Homo sapiens: one gene and its partners. The protein of the gene in region 3 purifies or fractionates together with the protein of the main gene of each other region. This does not show direct contact. Each region holds a gene or a part of one and is shown on either strand. Other genes may lie near its edges. The genes, in order: SLC25A17, FAR2, SLC39A12, NT5C3A, POM121C, PODXL2 and MANEA.

What was found.
Region 1: the proteins of SLC39A12 (region 3) and SLC25A17 purify together in Homo sapiens (affinity purification with mass spectrometry; 3 studies listed by BioGRID and IntAct, with this or other methods). This does not show direct contact.
Region 2: the proteins of SLC39A12 (region 3) and FAR2 purify together in Homo sapiens (affinity purification with mass spectrometry; 3 studies listed by BioGRID and IntAct, with this or other methods). This does not show direct contact.
Region 4: the proteins of SLC39A12 (region 3) and NT5C3A purify together in Homo sapiens (affinity purification with mass spectrometry; 3 studies listed by BioGRID and IntAct, with this or other methods). This does not show direct contact.
Region 5: the proteins of SLC39A12 (region 3) and POM121C purify together in Homo sapiens (affinity purification with mass spectrometry; 3 studies listed by BioGRID and IntAct, with this or other methods). This does not show direct contact.
Region 6: the proteins of SLC39A12 (region 3) and PODXL2 purify together in Homo sapiens (affinity purification with mass spectrometry; 3 studies listed by BioGRID and IntAct, with this or other methods). This does not show direct contact.
Region 7: the proteins of SLC39A12 (region 3) and MANEA purify together in Homo sapiens (affinity purification with mass spectrometry; 3 studies listed by BioGRID and IntAct, with this or other methods). This does not show direct contact.

Annotation. Positions count from the first base shown.
Region 1 is NC_000022.11:40,774,347-40,777,846, forward strand, and holds part of SLC25A17 (peroxisomal membrane protein PMP34), read right to left. Parts: intron 3,028-3,500; coding exon 2,882-3,027; intron 2,790-2,881; coding exon 2,694-2,789; intron 1-2,693.
Region 2 is NC_000012.12:29,309,778-29,313,277, forward strand, and holds part of FAR2 (fatty acyl-CoA reductase 2), read left to right. Parts: exon of another isoform or gene 1-126; intron 127-1,250; coding exon 1,251-1,369; intron 1,370-2,105; coding exon 2,106-2,173; intron 2,174-3,500. UniProt on the Homo sapiens protein: Catalyzes the reduction of saturated but not unsaturated C16 or C18 fatty acyl-CoA to fatty alcohols (FAls). A lower activity can be observed with shorter fatty acyl-CoA substrates.
Region 3 is NC_000010.11:18,041,352-18,043,785, reverse strand, and holds the end of SLC39A12 (zinc transporter ZIP12 isoform 1 precursor), read right to left. Parts: intron 1,082-2,434; coding exon 953-1,081; 3' UTR 501-952; downstream 1-500. UniProt on the Homo sapiens protein: Uniporter that promotes Zn(2+) import from the extracellular space to the cytoplasm across the cell membrane. The transport activity is temperature dependent. May play a role in neurulation and neurite extension.
Region 4 is NC_000007.14:33,059,977-33,063,994, reverse strand, and holds the start of NT5C3A (cytosolic 5'-nucleotidase 3A), read left to right. Parts: upstream 1-1,218; 5' UTR 1,219-1,289; coding exon 1,290-1,427; intron 1,428-4,018. UniProt on the Homo sapiens protein: Nucleotidase which shows specific activity towards cytidine monophosphate (CMP) and 7-methylguanosine monophosphate (m(7)GMP). CMP seems to be the preferred substrate.
Region 5 is NC_000007.14:75,423,800-75,427,299, forward strand, and holds part of POM121C (nuclear envelope pore membrane protein POM 121C), read right to left. Parts: intron 2,655-3,500; coding exon 2,563-2,654; intron 1,910-2,562; coding exon 1,836-1,909; intron 1,397-1,835; coding exon 1,275-1,396; intron 830-1,274; coding exon 727-829; intron 427-726; coding exon 250-426; intron 1-249. UniProt on the Homo sapiens protein: Essential component of the nuclear pore complex (NPC). The repeat-containing domain may be involved in anchoring components of the pore complex to the pore membrane. When overexpressed in cells induces the formation of cytoplasmic annulate lamellae (AL).
Region 6 is NC_000003.12:127,639,185-127,642,684, forward strand, and holds part of PODXL2 (podocalyxin-like protein 2 precursor), read left to right. Parts: intron 1-60; coding exon 61-339; intron 340-3,500. UniProt on the Homo sapiens protein: Acts as a ligand for vascular selectins. Mediates rapid rolling of leukocytes over vascular surfaces through high affinity divalent cation-dependent interactions with E-, P- and L-selectins.
Region 7 is NC_000006.12:95,605,035-95,608,534, forward strand, and holds part of MANEA (glycoprotein endo-alpha-1,2-mannosidase), read left to right. Parts: intron 1-713; coding exon 714-1,371; 3' UTR 1,372-3,500.

The DNA of each region.
Region 1 (3,500 bases), on a different chromosome or scaffold from region 3:
CCGAGTAGTTGGGATTATAGACATGTACCACCACGCCCGGCTAATTTTTGTATTTTTAGCAGAGATGTGGTTTCACCATGTTGGCCAGGCTGGTCTCGAATTCCTGACCTCAAATGATCCACCCACCTCGGCCTCCCGAAGTTCTGGGATTACAGGCATGAGCCACCATGTCCGGCCTAAGAAAAATTTTTCAATGAAGCAAGCATAATAATTTTCATTTTATAGAGAGGTATAGGGAAAATTCTACCTCAAAAGAAAAAAATATGCCCAGGATGATGATTTAGATATTGATGGTAATAACTTCCACTTCTTTAAGAAATTCTGAGAAATGAATCATTTAGAACATCTGCAGTCTAAGCTCTTCAGATTATGTGTTTACATTATAAAAGTGTTAAAATACATTTATAAGGATGCTACTGAATTCCCTTATGTTAAGTACCAATTTTAAAATAATATATTAGTAAAAATGCTTTTAACAGAAGGTACTAATTTTTCTGAACTGGAATATTCTCACTACCACCCCTATTTTATCTAGCAACAAGCCTTTTGAAATTTTTCTCCAAAACAGATCTTGAATCTGTCCTCATCCTACCCCTCTCCTCTCCAGTGCCACCACCGTGGTCCAGGCCACCATCCTCTCTTGCCTGTATTACTGAAATGGCCTCCTACTAGATTGCCCCTGGCTTTCTCTCTTAGCTTTCTGACCAATTCACCACATAATAGCCACAACAGTCTTCTTCAATTGTAAATCACAGCACATATTCCCCAGCTTAAAGCCCTTCCCATCACATATTCTCAGCTTAAAGTGCTGAGGATAAAAATCTACATTCCTCACCTACAGTTTCCCTGCTGCTCTTGCAATCTCACCCTGAGCCACTCTACTGCCATAGAGGCCTTCTTTCAGTCCCTAGGATACACCAAATTCTTAGTACATTGATATGGTTTGGCTGTGTCCCCATCCAAATCTCACCTTGAATTGTAATAATCCCCACAAGTCAAGGGCAGGGCCAGGTGGAGATAACTAAATCATGGGGGTGGTTTCCCCTATACTGTTCTTGTGGTAGTGAATAAGTCTCATGAGATCTGATGGTTTTTTTTTTTTTTTTTTTTTTTTTTTTTTTTTTTTTTGAGACGGAGTCTCGCTCTGTCGCCCAGGCCGGACTGCGGACTGCAGTGGCGCAATCTCGGCTCACTGCAAGCTCCGCTTCCCGGGTTCACGCCATTCTCCTGCCTCAGCCTCCCGAGTAGCTGGGACTACAGGCGCCCGCCACCGCGCCCGGCTAATTTTTTGTATTTTTAGTAGAGACGGGGTTTCACCTTGTTAGCCAGGATGGTCTCGATCTCCTGACCTCATGATCCACCCGCCTCGGCCTCCCAAAGTGCTGGGATTACAGGCGTGAGCCACCGCGCCCAACCGATCTGATGGTTTTATAGGAGGAGTTCCCCCTGCACTTGTCCTTGCTGCCGCCATGTGAAGAAGGACATGTTTGCTTCCCCTTCCACCATGATTGTAAGTTTCCTGAGGCCCCCCAGCCATGCTGAAATGTGAGTCAATTAAACCTCTTTCCTTTATAAATTACCCAGTCTCAGGCAGTCCTTTAGAGCAGCATGAGAATGGACTAACACACACATCATGCTCCCCCTGCCTGGAATGCACTTTCGTCCACTCTGCCCCACTAGGGCCTTACCCTCCTTTGCATCTTGATTTAAATATTCCTTCTCAAAGAAGCCCACCTCCAATCATGCTATCTAAGAAGAGCCCCACCATGCCCCTCTCCAGTAAATAATTTCCTTTATAGTTCTTTTTTCAATTTGTAATTACCTATTTATTTTGCTTGTTTACCTGTTCATTCTCTCTTCCACTAGCTCCATAAGGGCAGGGATTATGACTTTTATTTACCACTGCATGCCCAGGTCCTCCCACAGTGTGGATGCTTAGTAAATATTTGAATGGATAAATAACTGAATGAAATAAAAAACAGAAGTTTGAGAGTGCTTCAAAAAAGCTAAATCATTCATTCCTCCTGAGTGAACTAAAGGAATTAACCTCTGACTTTGTAAAGGATAATCCCTGCTGGGGCACCAAACCAATCAACTTGAATGAGAAGGAAGCAAACTTATGCTTTCCTGAGGTCTTTAAGGAACTTGTCTCCACATCTGTGTTTTCTGAGACATTATGTTACCTAAGAAATTACAAATGCAAACTTCATTCTAAACCAATGACAGCCAGCCTAGTTAAGCAGAATATCAAACAAATGAAAAAATGGGGGCCAGGCACAATGGTTCATGCCTATAATCCCAGCACTTTGGAAGGCCAAGGTGGGAGGATCGCTTGAGTCCAGGACTTTGAGACAAGCCTGGAAAACATGGTGAGACCCCATCTTCACACAAAAAAATTTTAAATTAGCTGGACAAGGTGGTGTATGTAGTCTCAGCTACTTGGGCAGCTGAGGCAGGAGGACTGCTTGAACCTAGGAGGTCGAGGGTATAGAGACCCATGGTGCACCACGGTACTCCAACCTGGGTGACAGAGGGAGATCCTGTCTCAAAAAAAGAAAAGAAAAAAAACAGATAGGGAATATTCTGGTATACCAACTAACTGCTTTATTGCTTTATTAACATTGTTTTAAATCAAGAGACTACATGTATTCGAATGCTGTTTGACTAAATGCGAAGAGAACTCCAGCACTCACCCTCAGAATTGACTGTACCGTCTGCAGGGGATAGGTCACCGTGGTGGCAATCGCTTTGGCTACTGCACCAATGATGAACACATCCAAGGAAGAAAGCTGGAAAGCAAAGGAAGAACAAACCATATCAATCAAGTCAACAAGAAGGTGTCAGACAGAATTATTTTACTGCTTTCAAAATCAAGGATTACCTTCATCCGTTTCTTTAAAAGCTGCCGTTTTAAACCTTCATAAAACATGAACTGGATGGCAGGATTGAAGACCAACAGCAATGAGGGAAATGTGCCATTCCATAAAGCCGAGATTCCTTCATCGCGAATGATCTGATGAAAAGCATCTAAGCAAGAAATCAGGGACTTTTGAAAAGCATGATCACAATCCCCCAACTAGAGAAGACAACATGAATTCTGTTGAAATGTACCCAGAACACAAACCATACTGGTTCTATAAAGATTTCCTTCTTGCAGCCGGTTGCAATGGCTCACGCCTGTAGTCCCAGCACTTTGGGAGGCCGAGGCGGGTGGATCACGAGGTCAGGAGTTTGAGACCAGCCCAGCCAGCATGGTGAAACCCTGTCTCTACTAAAAATACAAAAATTAGCTAGGTGTGGCGGTGCATACCTGTAATCTCAGCTACTTGGGGGGCTGAGGCAGGAGAATTGCTTGAACCCGGGAGGCAGAGGTTGCAGTGAGCCAAGATTGTGCCACTGCACTCCAGCCTGGGTGACAGAGCAAGACTCCATTTCCAAAAAAAAAAAAAAAAAGATTTCTTTCTTGCAATGATAGTTTGGGGTCAAGTTTATCGGTTAAT
Region 2 (3,500 bases), on a different chromosome or scaffold from region 3:
AACGTGGCTCCTCTAGGTAAGCAGCCCTTAGTGCGCATCTGCCCGAAGTCCAGATTGATCCAGCCAAGCTGTGGGGCTTCACAGCTCACACTGAAGCATTTAGGGTCTAAACCCCACTTCATTCTTCTGTACAATGAATAGGAAATCAGTGATCTAAATGAGTTTAAATTTTATTAGGGATTTAGACTGCGATTCAGACTCTGACTCTGTTCCTCCCAGAACTAGGTTCAACATGAATTGCAATACAGATATGAGACAGTGAATTATAACAGTGACAAAGATCTTCCTTCCGATTTCTGATTTTTCTAGCAGCCCCTTTCTTTCTGCTTCCCACCTGCCTTCAACTCTTTCTTCTACAAAAGTTCAGTTGGGGTGAACGTTTAGTGACTTAGAACATCATTATTTTAACGTGATCCCAAAACGGCTTTCATTACATGCAAAGCTACATATTTATTTACATTTTCTAAAATGTTCTAAATTGGTTTCTTATGTCCAAAAGAAGGGGAGCTAGTTATAAGAAAACAGAACTGAGTAACATAAGAAAGTGCTAATCGTTGCAAATCAATGTTGGAAACATGCAAAGCACAAAGAATCAATTTCATAAACTCAACCAATTATTAACATGAATAATTCCTAATTCTTGCATCTATATAACATCAGTGATCTGTGAGGTGAACTAAGATACTGAATAAAAAGTAAATAATAAGGCAATTTTTCCAAGCCAAAAAAAAAGTTTTCTTTTATTAATGGTGGAATTTCACCAATTAATGTTTTTCAAATAAGTATTTCTTAAACTTTTAGTGCCTACTATTGCTTGTAAGTTAATAAACCCTAGCAGAAAACAAAATCATCAAGGAAATGGTAAACAAATATTAATGGGAAAATTAATGGGAAATTTGTATAACCTTAATTCTTAACATGTCTTATGAATTAATTTTTAAGATGTAAAAGTTTATTCTTGGTGTTTGTTAATTGAGTTTATTAACCTCTCACAAATTTGAGGAATTTTATTCCCTAAAGGAACGTGAGGAACACTAGTAGTTCATGAAAATGCTGGAGACGCATGCACTTGGCTGGGAAGGTAGGATAGGCTGAGGAAGTCAGACTTAGCATAAGAACCTGGTAAGCAGTGGATCAATGTTAGCTGTTTTCACTTATTGCACTAGTATAACCAGTTTGATGATACATACTTTAGCCCCAGCTATTATTTAAGACCTGGTTTAATATTTTATGTTCTTTTTCCTATGCAGACTGGGAAAGGGTTTCTTCGGGCCATAAAAGCTACTCCAATGGCTGTGGCAGACGTAATTCCAGTTGATACAGTCGTCAATCTCATGCTAGCTGTAGGATGGTATACTGCAGTTCACAGGTGTGGATGCTCAAGTGGGCTTTCAAAGACTTCATGAGGGGCAGAGTGAATATATTAGGCCCATTTTCCAAATATAGGCATTTCATTGTACAAGACCCCAAATGTGTGAAAGTGCGTATTTCAATATTTTATAGAGTTCCTAATATGCCATCATATATGCATTGAGTTGTTTTATAAATACAGTTTAGTACTTGGCTACTCATAAAGTAATAAAACCTTTAAATCACTTAACCATAAAATTCTTGATAACCAAAAGGCTTTTCTTTCTATTCAGTAGTCTAAAATTCAGCTTTCTCTTTTAGGGCAAAGGAGATAGAAGCTGATGAAATGACAGAATTTTTTTTTAATTGAACTCTGGTAAATGCCAAAAGTTCAGTCACGATGTGTGGGGAAGCTTCCTGGTACAAAGGAAAAAAAATAGGTTGTTCATATATTTGGGTCTGTTAGTAAATTAAATTTTTCTTATGTGAACTCACATATATGTACTCCATAATATGTCACTCCTATTTAACATCTCTTTCACACACACACACACACACACACACACATGCTTTTCCTAGTCTTCTTCCATTTTGCTTATTAACCCAGAGAAAGAATGAACGATGGAAGCCTTTCATAGGTTGCCTTAATCAGATGAATTACTGAAACCACTCTGTCTAAATATTATTTTTCCTTATTTTTCTCTCATTAGTTTTCTATTTTGTTGTACTTATCTAATTTTTATTTCATTTTCCAGACCTAAGTCAACATTAGTCTACCACATTACATCTGGTAACATGAATCCCTGCAATTGGCACAAAATGGGTAAGTACTTTAGCTATGTAACTCTATAATTACTAGTGTCTGGCACAGAGAAAAAGTTGACAAAGTGTGTCATGGAGCTTAGAGCTTATATGGGGAGAAAGACAAAAAGTAAGTAAAGAGACAAAATAATGAGAAATTGTAAATGTGTGATAGTTAACTAGAATGTACTGTGGTTACCAAAGAAAGGAGTCAGTGGCAACATGTACAAGATTGTAAGCAGTAAGGGGTCCATTGGCTATAGCGATTTTAAAAATGATGAAACAAAGCAAAAGTTGGCAGTTATAAAGAATGTCAGTGATAAAATACTGAAATACTCCTCCCTGTTGGAGCAATGGCTCCTACACACACCCCTTCCCTTCTTGATATGTCACTGAGAATGCGACATCATCAATGACCAATGAGATAGAAAAGTTAGGTGATATTAATCCTTTGTTATTGAGTCCATCATACTGATCATTAATTTATGCAGCTTGCCTCTCAGGTGTGCAATAACCACTCCACTAGCGATTTGTAAAAGTGAATAGGAAGCACTATGGGAGAAATAAAAACAACACCCAGATTCCTTGAACCCTGGGACCAAGGTCTTGGGTGGTGCTGAGGAAACTATATGTTTAATAAGCATCTAGATGATTCTTGATGCTTGGTGAAACAGAGAAACCCTGTACTATACAAATGATTGATCTGTCTGAATGTAAAGGATTGGATCTGTTCAATGTATAAAACCATGGAAATAGAGTTGAGTACAACTTAAACATCTAATGATGGTAGAAAGTTAAAGTAGGGAGTTTGGCTATTCTGTAGGATTTCTTACTACCTACTAATGCACACTTTCTTTCCCTGTTACATAGGTAACACTACCTCTACACATTCCAGTGGTAAGCCATGGTGCCACACTGAGAGTTCTATTGCAGGGCAGCTAGACACTGTGGCTCATTTTATAATAGGCTTTGAATTGAAAAATGCTTTTCCAAGAATGGAAAATACCTGGCATGCAGGTATTTTTCTCTCCTCCTCTTACACCTATAGCAAACATTGTTGGCTGATACAACATTGTTTCTTCCTGTGCCAAGGCTCTGTTCTAGATTCCCATCTAATATAGCATTTCTGGAAGATATTACTAATTAATCTGATGTTGCATTCAAATTAAATTAGTTTGTGTTTCCTACCAGGGTTAAGAGGGATCAAAATGCTTCCTACTAGGAGCAGTAGCCATGCCATAGGAGGTTGAACATACATAGCCTCAGGTGACATTACAAGGAGTGACAGACAGCTGGGTCGGTGAACATGGGATATCAGAATCTCTTATGCTATCAACCTGTGCATAACT
Region 3 (2,434 bases):
AATAGCATTTAAAAAATAAGAAAAATATAAGGCATCTGTTTTCTAAGAAAACTGACTAAAGCCAGGGTTATTTTCTGTTTCAACACTTTCGCTAGGTTATCAGTAAATTGCATGTACATTTCATGAACTTACCTATTGAAATCCTGTTCAGGATTCTGTTTCCTCAGAAAGAAGATAAAATATATCTCACGTGTTAGTGAGATTATTCCCATAAATATTCTCTGTTAAATCTGTGAGAGTTTAGGCATTCATCTACTGCCTGACTCCAGTTTTGTTACTTTAAAAATTTTGAACTTCATCTTATGTTTCCAGCTCCCCTTGCCTGGAACAGATTTCATTTGACGACTTACATAGAAGAATGCTGACATGTTATCCTTTAGGTCTCCCAAAATGGCTTGTTCACAAGCGCTCTAGAGTCAGTGGGTGAACTATACATTGTTTTTTTAAGAGATGACTCAGAATCTGACATCCAGTAACAGAAGGTAATAAAAACCACCATATTAAAACTAGTCTTTATTACATTTGCTTGTCACTTAACTTGCTTATAGTTTATAATTGCACAGGGAAAAAAATTAACATCAAAAAGTTGCAGTTGATTTTACTCCAACAGGCATCTGTCCACTTTAAATTCTACAAACATTCTTTCTTAGGGAAAAAATCTATTTTTTAAAGTTTACTAAAATTCATGCAGAATTTACTAACTACTTTTTAAAAAGCAAGAGCTTCATCATGGTGTTGGAAACCAAAGACAAAATTTCAATTAAGGACAGTCTGATATTTATATGTTTCCAAAAATAAAACTGCATTATAAAATTAATAAGTTAATGAATTGAAAGAGACACACTTTGCCTAAGATAAAAAATTCTTAATTTAAAAATCATTATAGAGTGCAATGAAAGAAACAAAGTAAGACTATATAAATGCATTTTTGAAAGATGTTGAAGATCCTCACTTATATTTTAATATTTTGCTCATATATAGCCAAGAGCAGGAGAGAAAGCCAACCTAGGATCAATCCAAAGTTTTGCAGGAGAAACATCATCCAGGGTCGTTGTGTTTGAACATGAGTCATTTCAGGAAGCTAAAAAAAGAATAAAAAACCAGAATAAGATCCAGATATATTCAACTGCTGGGAAAAGCTTGGTGGGAAAACATGAGCGACTGTTATTCAGAACTTAATAACCTTTAAAATTCCCAAAACAGTTACAAAATGCTGAATACCTACTCTACCATGTCTTTGAAATGTAAGCTAAAAGTAAGCCATTTGATTGTGGTTATGAGGATCCCAGGATTGGCAAAGTCTTTTTTTTTTTTTTTTTTTTCTTTTGAGGCAGGGTCTTTGCCCTGTCACCCAGGCTGGAGTGCAATGGCTGCGATCACATTTCACAGCAACCTCCTGGGCTCCAGCAATCCTCTCACCTCAGCCTTCCAGGTGCGTGCCATTGCACCCAGCTAATTTTTGCATTTTTTTGTAGAGATGGGGTTTCCCTGTATTGCCCAGGCAGGTCTCAAGCTCCTGGGCTCAAGCAACCTGCATGTTGCGGCCTCCCAAAGTGCTGGGGCTTATAGGCGTGAGCCACTGCACCTGGCCTTTGGTAGAAGTCTTAAAATGACATAGTTACCAACCAAAAACAAACCCAACTCTTACTTTTCAGAAAATGTTTAAATGTGAAGTAAATAATGCATCAAAATTATTATTTTGGACTGTTCTATTAGGCTTATAGAACTACTATATGCACAGGTTGATGTAAGGCATATATACATATTATGGGAGGAGGGAGGAAGAAAAGGAGAGAGAGAGAGCGATGACTAAGATCCTCCTGATCTTTAGAACAGTAAGGACATTATCTCCTGTGGCTACATATATATATGTATACATATATACATATACATATATGTGTGTATATATATACATATACATATGTATGTACATATATATACGTATACATATGTATGTACATACATATACGTATACATATGTATATACATATAGACACATATGTATATACATATGTATACATATGTATACACATATATACATGTATATACATATATACACATATATACATATGTATATACATATATATACACATATATACATATGTATATACATATATATACACATATATACATATGTATATACATATATATACACATATATACATATGTATATACATATATATACACATATATATGGTGTGTGTATGTATGTGTGTGTGTATGTGTGCGTGTGTGTGTGTGTGTGTGTGTATATATATACATATATATATATATAAAGTTTTTTTTTTTTGAGACAGAGTCTCACTCTGTCACCCAGGCTGGAGTGCAGTGGTGGGATCTCAGCTTACTGCAATGTCTGCCTCCCGGGTTCAAGCAATTCTCCTGCCTCAGCCTCCTGAGTAGCTAGGACTACAGGCATGTGCTGCCACACTCG
Region 4 (4,018 bases), on a different chromosome or scaffold from region 3:
CATTCAAAATAATATGTAATATATGGAAAATGTTTTTGTTGAGGAAGAAAGATAAATGAGACTGTGACCATCTTAGGCCTCACAATCAGACAACATTTAAGTCATATTGGTATTTGGTGCAAAACTGGATTCATAAAAAATTACTTTGGCGACAAAATGACACAGTAGTCTAGATATTGATACTCAAATATTCTGGGTATTAAAACTCAGTCTTCTTCAGGTTATACTCCCAGCTAACTTACTTTGGGACACGTTCTCGGTCTATACTGAGTCTGTGTTCCCAGGCTTAAGTCCTCAAACTTGGCCGAGTAATAAAACTAACCATGATTTCTTTAAGTTTTAGTACCTGTTATTTCACCTTTCGGTCGACAAATCGTTTTTCTCATGTTCCTCTGTCTTACATCAATTTAATTTGTAGACCAGCCAAATGACCTAAAAGGCTAGAAGGAAACAATTTTTCCTCCCCTACAACTATTTCCTCTAGTCCTCCGGCTGAAAGTTGTTCCACGTCCTGGGCAGAGAGAGCCCCACCAGGCAGCACCACCAGCTCCACAGAGTTGGAGCGATTCCCCCAAGAAGCTCCCCTGCGCCCCTCCTCACCCCCAGAGACCAGCAGAAGAAATGGCATCTATCCCTTGGAAGACACTAGGCAGGAGAGAACAACTGCAAGCCCTTCTGCTCACACAGAAAAAAGGATGGCGGAGGTGGCGAATGGGATGTAGCAGAAACCCCGCGGCTGCGGCGGAAGGGACACCGCCCCTCTCCAGCCTAACTCTGAGCCATCTTCCCCCTGTTGTTATAGCACTTAGAACGGACGCCACTGCGCAGGTCACACCGTGCCGCGCAGCCTTCTGGGGGTCGGAGTCCAGAGGGGCTGAGGCGCGAAGGCGGAGACCGACTTCTTAGCGGGCCGCAGTTGGAATTAGATTTCTACTGGGGCGGGGCTCGAGCGAACCACGGCCTAATCCTCATTAGCAGAGAAGGATAATTACCGCAATACTCTGCCCTGCCCTGACAGCAGCTCGTGAGACCCTGAGTCTGCTGAAGGCCGCCTCCAGCCTGGGCTCCGGGCACAGGCCACACCCCTCCCGCCGCGTCCTGGCCTCTCCCATCGATGGCGTGTGGGTGGGGCTTCGTGGGGGCGGAGCTGCGCGGGGCGGGGCGTCGCTGCGCGGGGCGGGGCGTCGCGGGCTCGTCCGTGATGCTCTGGGATCCCGCGCTTCCGAGACTCGCAGTCTACGCGAGCTGCCTGTTTTTTTCCTGCTTGGACGCGCATGAGGGCCCCGTCCATGGACCGCGCGGCCGTGGCGAGGGTGGGCGCGGTAGCGAGCGCCAGCGTGTGCGCCCTGGTGGCGGGGGTGGTGCTGGCTCAGTACATATTCACCTTGAAGAGGAAGACGGGGCGGAAGACCAAGATCATCGAGATGGTGAGTGTGGAGGCTCGGCGCGCCCAGAGCACGCGAGGGGCCGGCTGGGCCGTCCGCTGGCCTCGGCAGCCTGTGCTGGGCCGCTGTTCGGTCGCGACGGGGAGCTGCCGGCGTCGCCTGTCAGGCTGGGATCTCGCTAGCTCGGGACGCGCAGCTTGGGGGACCCGGCCGCCCCGCGTGCGGCCACTCCGCGGGCTTGGTGACCAGGGTTGGGTCCCCGGCTGCGGCCCTTGGCTGCCCGTGGTCTTTGTTAGGTTTCCGTTTGAAGGAACAAGGCAGAAAATAGATGAATCGGACACAGGCTACTTTGTGCTGCAAAACCCGTTTCTCTAGAGATAAGCTGCATGTCCTGGGCAGGTGGCTCCTTCTCTCCCTGCCTTGCTCCCGCCCTCCCCCCGGATCCGCGTCAAACCGTTGCCGCTAATCTAGTTGCAATTCCCGCAGAGGACTAGTTTTATGTTGGGGCTGCCGTGAGTTAGATTATGAAAATGTGCAATATCTAAAATTTTACAAGAATGGCAATCCAGGAGAAATTCAGGATAGTTTATTTTGTATTTGAATGTATTCCTTCTTGTCTCAAAACTCCCACGAAATATCTTTGTTTTCATCTTAACTCCCAAAGCTCTTGTATACATTTTCGAATTTAATTTTTTATTGAAGAGGGTGTCTCAAGAATTCCCTTTGAGATACATTATAAGTAATTGTTTCAAAAATGAGGATATTTAGTTTCGTTTTGTATTTTAATTAGAACCCACTCAGGAAGACAATTCTTGCACAAACTTGCACGCTTATGTATTTCCTGAAATGCATAATCCTGGGTATACGCCTGACCGTGTGCTATACATGTGAACATCTAGGGTCAGATGATTTATGATAGAAAAAAATTTAAAATCTACACTAAATAATATCATTTTAGGGTGTAATACTTGGAATTTCTGAGCACCTGCAATATGTTCCAACTGACGAAAGACACGATTTGTCCTATTGGTTGTACTGACCCCAGGTTGAATACAGATGTATTTGCATAATTAAAATTAGCCAGTGTCCCAGCTATTTGGGAGGCTGAGAGGAAGATCACTGGAGTCTGGGAGTTCAAGGTTATAATCACACCTGTGGATAGCTACTGCACTCCAGCCTGGGAAACATAGCGAGACCCTGTCTCTTAAAAAAAAAAGTTAATTCCCACTTGTCTCATATTCCAATAATATTCCCTAATTTTGAATTAATTTATTCTTAAAGGGTCTTAATAATTCTAAAGGCTTATTAAAATTCATTTGTCCCACATCTGTATGCCCACAGCAGCAAATGGTTTTAACTCAGAAGTTTCATTTTGCTTTTGTTGCTTTCCTGCTTAGAAAACTTGGCTTTCTTTTGCCCAAGGTTAATAATGCCTATGTAGGGGAAAAAACCGAGTTGCCATATCTCCCTGCCTGTGCTTAAACTATGGATTGGTCTGTATACCACTTATCTAAGCCAAGTAAGGTTAAAAATCAGTGTGTTCACAAAATCCTTCAATGATACCATCATAGGAACAGTTTGCTATCTTTGTGACAAATAATGAAGACCTATCTAGAATACCAACTTATTGGTACTAAAGAAATCAGTCAATATTTACATGTATGCATAGTATATTAATTCAGATTGTAATATATGTGTAGCCTGCTAGTAGCTTTTCAATGGAAAAAGTGAAAAGAGCTTCATGTTAACTTTTTTAATTTTAATAGGTTGCTTCTTCAAGTGGAAGAAGTATTTGACTGGGGGTCAGAAGACCTGGGTTGGAATCCTAGTTCCATCTTTCTGTAATAATGTAGGTCTGCTCTGCCCATCCTCTGCCCTCCTCCCTCAGAAAAATCTCTGCAAACCCATGATGTCCAACAGACATAGCTCATATTGGTCACAGCTAACGGAGTTAACTACCTAACCAAGTTGGGCCTATCTAACTGGCTAAGAAAACCAATAACTTCTGGGACTTGGTCAAAATGATGCATTGTCTTGCAAGAGTTTTTAATTGAGAGACATGAGGAAGTTGCTAGTGGGTTGTGTATGCTACAGCTGAAATATCCCATAGGGCAGCAAGATTAATGTACAGAAGAAGCCAGTCATGGCTAGGCATGGTGGCTCACACCTGTAATCCCAGCACTTTGGGAGGGTGAGGTGGGAGAACCCTGTCTCAAAAAAAAAAAAAAAAAAAAAAAAAAGAAGGAAAGCAAGATACGGAATGGGATCAAGAAACTGAATTGTAAAGGAATTTTGTAAAGCCATTATAAAGAGTTTGCTCTTTATTTTGCAACAAAGGATCATCAAAGGTTTGCTTTGGCAGGGTACAGTGGCTCACGCCTGCAATCCCAGCACTTTTGGAGGCTGAGGCGGGAGGATCCCTTGAGCCCAGGAGTTCGAGACCAGCCTGGGCGGCATAGGGAGACCCTTTCTCTACAGAAAATAAAGATTTTAGCCAGTGCAGTGGCACACACTTGTAGTGTAGTCCCACCTACTTAGGGGCCGAAGGTGAAATCTCTTCAGTCAAGGTGGTCGAGGCTGCAGTGAGTCGTGATCACACCATTGCACTCAAGCTTGGGTGACAGAGTCACCCA
Region 5 (3,500 bases), on a different chromosome or scaffold from region 3:
AAATGAGGAAGGCGAGGCTCAGGGCAGCTAAGCCAGGCTTCAGATCCTGAGCGTCGCAGCACCCCTTCTCTAACACTTCCTGATGTGGGCTCCGGCGCTGTTAAACGTAGGCCCGCTCCGGTGTGCTGAGCCAGGGTGCGTTCGGCCTGCAGAGCAATCTCCAGCGACTGACAGGCACGACGCCCTTATTCCAACCCAAGCCGGGGATGCTGCTCAGAAGGCTGGATCCACGGCCCCACTCCAGCTCACCTGGGCAGGGTGGCAGGCTCGGGGGAGTCTGCATCTTCTTCAAGCTCTCTAACAGTGGGTTGGTGCTTGGGGCCAGGAGGGAGGTGGGTGGGGAGGCAGTTGCAGCAGCAGGCAGGGTAAAGGTAAATGAAGGCTGAGTGGTAGGTGGGGTCTCAGTGACAGAGTTCGAGGCAGCATCTAAGAAAGAAAGAAAGGTGAAGCAGTCCTGGCTTGTCTGGGACTTCTTTCCACATGCCTGTCGGAGAGCAGGCTCTCAGCACAGCTCATGGAGGAATGTCTGCCCTAAATTGCAGTAGTCCCTGCTGTCCAGTTCCCGTGAAGACCAACACGGATATCTCAGGTGAGAAAGACCACAAGAAAACATGGAACTCTACTTCGGATTTTCCCAGAGAAACCCATTTTTCCAAACACCAAAATAAAACCAAAGAAAACAGACACCTGAAACCTCTCGAGAGTGCAACGATCTGTGCTCCTTACCACTCTTGTCCTCCAAGGCCTGGTTGAACCACTGTAATGAAGCCTTCTTCTCTAAGTCTAGGTCCTCGGCAGTGATCGAATAGCCAAGCTGGGGAGGTGGAGGCTACCAAAGAGAAAAAGAAGAAGTCAGGCCAATCAGAAAAAACGGGAAGGCTGGGCGTGGTGGCTAACGCCGGTAATCTCAGCACTCTGGGAGGCCAAGCCAGCTGGATCACTTGAGGTCAGGAGTTTGAGGCTGGCCTGGCCAACATGGTGAAACCCCATCTCTACTAAAAATACAAAAAATTAGTCAGGCGTGGTAGCAAGCGCCTGTAATCCCAGCTACTTGGGAGGCTGAGGCAGGAGAATTGCTTGAACTCAGGAGGCAGAGGTTACGGTTAGCCAAAATCGAGCCACTGAACTCCAGCCTGGGTGACAGAGGGATGTTGTCTCAAAAAACAAAAACAAAAATAAGTTAGAAAAAAAAACAGAAGAAACTTGTCCTTAGCGTTCCTAAGACTTAGGAGAGCTAAGCCGGGGAGGGCAGGAGTAGATGGACAAGACCATACCAAGGTCAGCTGTTCCCCTCGCCGAGAAGGCAGCAGCTGAACTTTCCGCTTACGCTGCCCAGAGCTGCCAGGTGTAGACTGAGAATTCGAGTTTTGTTTCTTCCTTGGGGTTGTATCTGCAGCTAAAGAAAGAAATCAAGACTCGTTTGCTTCCTTCCCTCTTCCAGAAATGGATGGTTGTGTCTACCCACTTCGCATTTCACACTGAGTTTTCAATGATGGTATCTCTGAAAAGATTCAATCTTCTATGGTTTGGTTGCTTGGATGGTGTTTGTAAGATTAAGGCGCGCACACAAACCGCTTACTGTGCAGTAATTACTGGGATCACCCACAGGTGACTCAAACTGAGCTTACCTCTATCCAATCGTTAGCCCCCATCTGTAGCCTTTCTCCCTCATCAGACTATAAACTTCTGAAGGAGAGGAAATCTCTCTCTTTGTATCTAACATGCCTTAGACATAGCAATGCTCAAGACCTTTTTTCAATAGGTATTAATCTCTACATCCTCCACAAATACCTCCACCACCAACAGCAGCCCCTCCTCCTGGCTCAGCAACCTACCCTTTTCTCCCTGGGACTCCTTGTCTGCTGCCAATGGAGTTGAAGAACTGGAATGATGACACAGCTCTTCTTCTCTGTTGGGAAAAAAGGAACAATTTAGTCTAGAAAGACTTCTTGGCTGAAGTATTAAATAATTTCTCACACCCTCCTAACTACCAAGTGGCCAACATCTAAAACAACCATCATTTAAGATCTCAGTATGCCAGGATAAAAAAAGTCAACAGGAAATTCCAACAGAATGAAGGGAGGCTGTTCACAGAGGCCATGAAGACAGTTTTTGTCTTAAAACAAGCACAAAACAATAATCTTCAAACCTTACTTACAACCTACCAAGTCCCTGGGAGTTCTAGACACAGATGTGATCCCTGAGGGAGTGGCATTCCAGCCAACTGCAAGCACCTAGGGGATCAGCTCGAGTCAAGAACCTGAAGGCGACTGCCCGCTGACTTGACTCTCTCTGCTCTCCACTCTGCATGGCCTCTGTGCTTGCACCCGATCCCTCATGCTGGAGTGGGAGGCGACAGCCAGAGGCCACTGGAGTCAGTATCCAAGACTGTAGGGATGATAGTTGTTCAGGTGGGTGCTGCATTGTCCCTCTCAGGGACTTAGTTTCTTTGATTCTCCAAGTCACAGCAGCACAAAGCCTAAGAGCCAGGTTCGTTTCCCACCTTTCCTCACCCCCTTCTGTCCACGTAGCAAATGAAAACTGCAGGAGAATGCCGAATACCTTATTTTCTTTGCTGGCCTCTCCGGTGTCTGGGAGCGGGATGAGGCTGGGCTAGAGAAGGGTGATGAACTGGGGCCATTTCTCTTCCACAGCTAAAAATCAAGAGGGACATGACTGAGCCTGCTGATAACTTAGCATCTGACCCTCAACATGACAAAGTCTCTTTTTAAGTGACTAAAAAAATATTTTTTATGGTTAAATGGTTAGTCATGCCTGTAATCCCAGCATGCTGGGAGGCCAAGGTGGGAGGATTGCTTGAGCCCAGGAGTTTGAGACCAGCCTGGGTAACATAGCGAGACCCCCGTCTCTACAAAAAATTGAAAAATCAGTTGGGTGTGGTGGTTTGCATCTGTGGTCCCAACTACTCAGGAGGCTGCAGTGAGCTGAGATTGCCCCACTGCACTCCAGCCTGGGTGACAGAGTGAGACCCTGTCTCAAAAAAAAAAAAAAAAAAAAAAAAATAGAAAATGAAAATGAAAAAAATTTGTTTGTGAAGAAAGACCCCTGAAAAGAAAGTCAACTGCCAGTATTAATTATGAAAGCAAAAAAAGAAAAGTCTATAAAAGTAATGGAATGTGAATAAAGGTAGAAGGGATGGACACACTTTTGCATATATTAGCCTCAGTAATGAAGAGCCAGGACACATTCAAACCTGTGCCAGACTGTCTACGGAAAGGATACAAGTAAATTAAAGAAGACAACCCAGTAAACTAATTTAGTCTTGCTTCCATTAAATTTTCGATTTTTCATTTAGTAACTTCATTTTAAAAATACGCTGTCATGGCCAGGCGTGGTGGCTCACGCCTGTAATCCCAGCACTTTGGGAGGCCAAGGGGGGTGGATCACGAGGTCAGGAGATGGAGACCATCTTGGCTAACACAGTGAAATCCCATCTCTACTAAAAATACAAAAAAATACAAAAAATTAGCTGGGCGTGG
Region 6 (3,500 bases), on a different chromosome or scaffold from region 3:
GGCACCAGTCTTGTGTCTTCTCTAGCCTCCCCTGACTGTCTGGCTTTTATGTCTGCACAGGAGCGTTCCTGGGTGCCTGTGTGGCTGGGTCTGATGAGCCTGGCCCAGAGGGCCTCACCTCCACCTCCCTGCTAGACCTCCTGCTGCCCACTGGCTTGGAGCCACTGGACTCAGAGGAGCCTAGTGAGACCATGGGCCTGGGAGCTGGGCTGGGAGCCCCTGGCTCAGGCTTCCCCAGCGAAGAGAATGAAGAGTCTCGGATTCTGCAGCCACCACAGTACTTCTGGGAAGAGGAGGAAGAGCTGAATGACTCAAGTCTGGACCTGGGACCCACTGCAGGTAGCTCTTCTTACCTACAGAGCATGTGTTGAGTGCCAGCCAAGTGTCTAGGCAAAACACCAGGTGACCATTTCCTTGCCAGAAGCATCTCTTCTCTCTCCCTACAGTTTTTACCATGCTGCTGCTGTTTACCTGCACATCAGAGCAAAGGCTCTGGGACCCTGAATGTCTCACAGGCCCAGGAGGCCCTTTCTCTTTAATACTAACCACTGTTTAGGGAGCCTTTATTCTGTGCTCATTTAATTCAATCTGATGCTTATAACCTGAGAGATAAGTAATATGACCCCCCTTGTAGACAAGAAAACACTGAGACTGAGAGGTTAAAAGCTGGCCTGAGGTCAAACAGCAGCTCAGATGCTCAGTCATGATTCAGACCTATGGCTTTCCAAGCCCTGGGGCTCATTGTTTTGTTTTTCCCTACTGCTCTATGCTGTCTCTGTTGAAGATTGCCACAAGGTCAGCTGATCCATGTTTCCTTGAGTCTATCCGACCAGCAATTGAGGCATTCTAACCGCCCTTCCCTCAGTCATGCACCAGAGCTAGAGCTGGTGTTTGGATCTACAGAGCCCAGCTGGTGAACATTTGGGTCCCGAAGAAAGCCCGAGGCCTAGGGCTCCAGGTTTGAATGCCCACCGCCATGAGCTGACATTGATACAGATGCAGGCATGGCCCCTCCACCAATGTCCTGGGCCAGCAGGGCCCCATCTCTTAGTAGGGACTGAGGAATTGGTGTGATTGTGTGTGCACATGGGGCAAGGTGTTACAGAACTTAACCTTTAATTTTTCTTTTTAAAATAGGTAATATTTATTGGATTTACCTTTTCTAATTATAAAAGAACACATGAACATTGTAGAAAATCTGAAACACACAAAAATAATACAAAGAAGAAAATAAGGCTGGGTGTGGTGGCTCACGTCTGTAATCCCAGCACTTTGGGAGGCTGAGGCGGGTGGATCACTTGGGGTCAGGAGTTTGAGAACAGCCTGGCCAACATGGTGAAACCCTGTCTCCACTAAAAATACAAAAATTAGCTGGACATGATTGCGGGCATCTGTAATCCCATCTACTCAGGAGGCTGAGGCAGGAGAATGGCTTGAACCCGGGAGGTGGAGGTTGCAGTGAGCTGAGATCGCACCACTGCTCTCCAGCCTGGGCGACAAGAACAAAACTCTATCTCAAAAAAAAATAAAATAAAATAAAAAATAAAAACTACCTATAACCTGATAATTGAAAGATAATTACTATTAGTAGTTTGGGGATACATTGTTCTAGTCACTTTATGTGCAAAATTGGAATCATAGGGACATTTTGTTTTCACTCAAAATATTTCATAAGTATATTTCCGCATTGTTAAATATCCATTTATAACCTGATTTTTAAACATGTTATTATTTATTTATTTTTTTGAGATGGAGTCTTGCTCTGTCACCTGGGCTAGAGTGCAGTGGCGTGACCTTGGCTCACTGTAACCTTCATTTCCTGAGTTCAAGTGATTCTCCTGCCTCAGCCTCCGAGTAGCTGGGATTACAGGCATGCGCCATCACACCCAGCTAATTTTTGTATTTTTAGTAAAGACAGGGTTTCACCATGTTGGCCAGGCTGGTCTCTAACTCCTGACCTCAAGTGATCTGCCCGTCTCGGCCTCCCAAAGTGCTGGGATTACAGGTCTGAGCCACCGCACCCGGACAACATGTTATTATTTATTTATTTATGTTTAGAGTTGAGGTTTTGCTCCATTGTTCAGGTGTGATCATAGTTCACTGTAACCTCGAACTCCTGGGCTCAAGCGATCCTCCCACCTCAGCCTCGTAGGTAGCAGGGACCAAAAATGTGCCACCATGCCTGACTAATTTTTTCATTTTTTTGTAGTGATGGGGTCTTGCTATGTTGCCCAGGCTGGTCTTGAACTCCTGGGCTCAAGCGATCCTCCTCCCTTGGCCTCCCAAAGTGCTAAGATTATAGCTGTGAACCACTGTGCCTGGCTTATAACTTGATTTTTTTTTCTTGAGACGGAGTTTTGCTCTTGTTGCCCAGGCTGGAGTGCAGTGGTGCCATCTTGGCTCACCACAACCTCCGCCTCCCAGGTTCAAGCGGTTGTCCTGCCTCAGCCTCCTGAGTAGCTGGGATCATAGGCATGTGCCACCATGCCCGAATAATTTTGTATTTTTTTTAGTAGAGACAGGGTTTCTCCATGTTGGTCAGGCTAGTCTCGAACTCCTGACCTCAGGTGATGTGCCCACCTCGGCCTCCCAAAGTGCTGGGATTACAGGCATGAGCCACCGTGCCCAGCCCTGATTTTTAACAACTACGTTATATTTCATCATGTGGGTCATCAGGTGTATTAAACTGGTTCCCTACTGTTGAATACTTAGGTTGTCTTCAGTTTTAATTCTGCTACAAATATCCTTACACATTTTCGCACCTTCCTGGTGGTTTCCTTAGGATAAATTTCTAGAATAAAATTGATAGGTCAAAAGATGTATTAGGGCCGGGCACGTGGCTCACGCCTGTGATTCCGGCACTTTGGGAGTTCGAGGTGGGCAGATCATGAGGTCCGGAGTTCGAGACCAGCCTGGCCAACATGGTGTAACTCCGTCTCTACTAAAAATACAAAAATTAGCCAGGTGTGGTGGCGGACGCCTGTGAACCTAGCTACTCAGGAGGCTGAGGCAGGAGAGTTGCTTGAACCTGGGAGGTGGAGGTTGCAGTGAGCTGAGATTGCACCACTGCACTCCAGCCTGGGGGACAGAGCGAGACTCCATCTCAGAAAAAAAAAAAAAAAAAGATGTATCAGTCAGCATCCCACGCGGAAACAGAAGACACAATCAAATTAAAACAATCTAAGGAGAGTTTGTTTATGAAGCAGCAGATTTATGAAGGTATGGGCTGGATACAGGTGAACTACCAAAGGACTCACAAGTCCTTTGGCTAAGGATCTGTGGCTAGCAACAGCTGAGTGCTTACCATCTCTAGGCACAGTGAGACCAGGGAAGGGATGAAGATGGGAGCCTGCAGGGAAAGTGGTGTAGAGAGGTGGCCAGATATGGGAGGAGACGAAGAGAATGAACGCCGCACCCCCCACCAAGTGTTCTCTCTTTCCCTTGTCAGTTTGATAGGAAAAATTATAATGGCCTTTGATTACTAGTATATTTTAACTCAT
Region 7 (3,500 bases), on a different chromosome or scaffold from region 3:
TTATTGTAATGAATGTCACCATCATTTCGAAGAACATTGCTGAAGTTTCTTATAATTCACTTTCTTTTTGGAAGATTGCTGTTTTTACTGTTTTACAGGTTTATAGGCTATTTATGATTTCTGTAGTTTTGATATTTTAAAATGACATTATTTTCTAAACCTTCAGAATATAGCTTTATCTTTTTAAAAAGAAGGTTCAGATTATTAAAAGTGAACTACTTCTTTTAACACAGTAGACCCAGAGCTGATATTTTCATTTATATCTAGCCTGATCAAAAAGAATTTATTAATACAGTTTTCATTTTTTGAAAGAATTTTACTGATAATAGTCTGTGACAGATGCCATAGTCTTACAAAGAAACTTGTCAGCAACAGTAGAACATTTATCACTGATAGATAAAAAAGCAGTTTAGGTATTATGTAGAGTATTATTTATAATGTAGAGACATAGGCTTTTTATGGCATTAGTCATCATTTGTAAACCTCAATATGAGATGGTTAATACTTGTTTGGTAATGCATCCAGTATCTCATTTTCTAATGTGTAAAATTAAAAATGCATTTTTAATTATTACACTTACACAACTGATTCCCCTAAGAAATGGAGCAGTGTGCTCAAACTGCACTGACTCCTTCATTTTCAGTAAACAGTTTTTGTCTGTGGCAAATTAGTTGTGAATATTCATTTCACTTTTATATATGCTTATTTTCTAGATATGGAAATCATCCGGCCTTTTACAGGTACAAGACGAAGACTGGCAATGCTCTTCCTATGTTTTATGTCTATGATTCCTATATTACCAAGCCTGAAAAATGGGCCAATCTGTTAACCACCTCAGGGTCTCGGAGTATTCGCAATTCTCCTTATGATGGACTGTTTATTGCCCTTCTGGTAGAAGAAAAACATAAGTATGATATTCTTCAAAGTGGTTTTGATGGAATTTACACATATTTTGCCACAAATGGCTTTACTTATGGCTCATCACATCAGAATTGGGCTAGCCTAAAATTATTTTGTGATAAATACAACTTAATATTTATCCCAAGTGTGGGCCCAGGATACATAGATACCAGCATCCGTCCATGGAACACGCAAAACACTCGGAACCGAATCAATGGGAAGTATTATGAAATTGGTCTGAGTGCCGCACTTCAGACACGCCCCAGCTTAATTTCTATCACCTCTTTTAATGAGTGGCATGAAGGAACTCAGATTGAAAAAGCTGTTCCCAAAAGAACCAGTAATACAGTGTACCTAGATTACCGTCCTCATAAACCAGGTCTTTACCTAGAACTGACTCGCAAGTGGTCTGAAAAATACAGTAAGGAAAGAGCAACTTATGCATTAGATCGCCAGCTGCCTGTTTCTTAATGCATTGATTAAAGTTTAATAGTTATCAAAATCACCTAATTTTTAAAAATAGCTTTCGTTTTGAGTTCTGGAAAGAAAACTGTCAAAATCAGTATATACTATTAGTTATATTTAAAAATATTTTTTTAAATTCTTTACAGATAATATTATACTTGTTACCCTTCACAATACCACATGAGAAAATATCTGAGACAAAATGTATACAAATATATTCCTTATGGCATAATTTATTGCATTTCTGACTGAAATCAAAATTCTGATTTGATGGCAATTGAATTTTCATTTTACAATAGATAAATGCTTGTGCTACCTAAAGCACTTAGCACACAGTTAAATTATATTTACATCCTAGACCCAAATAAATAGGATTGTGTGTATATTTGGGATATCTATTGAAGAAAAAAAGAAAACCCCTTAAAGATAATGTACATGCTTCATGTCATGTCTTTAAAATAATTTAATCAACTTTATTGTCTTAGTATTTAGACTCTGGATAACTCTACAATAATGAGGAAATTCTTAAGAATAACAAAATCACTGTACCTTCCTCTCAATTTTGCTGTGAACCTGAAATGGCTTTAAATTAATACTCTTATTTTTTATTTAATTTAATTACATAAATTAAACCTTACCATGACCAAATTGTGTTAGGACGGCCTGCTATCTACAGCACAGTGTGTCATTTGCAGATTTGTGGTTACCTATACCACGCTAGGTGTTTTGACATGTTTAGTGTTTCTGCTTTACAGTGCTGAATTCCATATTTTAGAAGCTATGAAAGTCCTTTTATGAAAAAGTTACTGATTGCTTCTCAGTTATTAGGAAAACAGTTGTTTCACAATTATTATGTAGATATGATGCCCAAATATCATTTTTAGTATATCTTGTCGATCTTTAAGTTGTTACTATTGTGTTATTCATGTCTTTAAATCAGATACCAAATATTTTTTAGGAAAGAAAAATGTTATTACTGTCATTAGGTTGTCTTTTAATACTTTAAGTTATTTTGACGAAAAGTAATAGAGAAAATTTACTTAGCATTTTAGATTCTAGAGACATGGAAATGAAAATTATTTTATGTCTAGAGTAGGTCCTGAAGTTTGGCTTTACATTAAGTTTAGCACTGTATCAGAATGAAGAAACTAATATTTTACATAAAAACTAATACTTTCAATTTTTTATATAGTAATATCCCCATTTTGTAAATGTTAGACTTTTATCATACCTGTAAGTTAAAATACTTGTTATCAATAACTTGTCATGTTGTGACAAATTGATCACTTGTGTACGAAAAATAAATCTCCTTAAAAACTAAATAAAATGCACTGTATTCTTACAGTTAATGTTTATAACTATAGTAAAAAATTAATATATATCCTATTACATAAATGTTATTTCTTAGGTGTTCCATTAAGAAGAGCAATAGAATAATGCTAAAAAATAATGCCTATAAATCTTCAGAGTATAAAGACATCCATTCAGAAACAAAAATTAGCACTAAATTTTTTATAAAATAGACCAGATGACAAAATTTATTTTATTTTTAAACAGTGGTTTTGACACAAATTATGTTATTGAAAAGCATTATTAATGTTTAATTTATTTAAAATTTTGGAATTTGCCATTTCTCAGAGAATGATCAGGCCTTAGGAAATTAATACAGTAGTAGTAATCATTTTCTAGGGGAAAATAAAAGAATAAATCACTATACTGATATTTTGATACAAGCAAGCACTTACATGGTAATCACTATATAGATCCAACCTGTGGATTTTCTTCTTATGTCCATTTAACTAGAATATATTATTTTAGGTATAATTTACAAATGTCACACCTAATAATCTTTTATAATATACCATATTTCATTAAAGTTTTGTTAGAGAAGTATCTACCACAGAGGAGTTTTTGTCATTGTGTACGTTGTGTATTTGAACCCACCATGACAGAAAGTAAATTTTAGGAAATAGTTATGAGATTAAGGGAAAATCTATAAAAACAAGGTTAGCATATTCTCAACACAGATACCACCACTTTCTTTTTCCCATTATAGACATGGTGAATCCACACAGCATACTTCATCTCTGAGCTTTGTTGTGATTCCTCAACACATTACCCTAACCAGCCAGCAG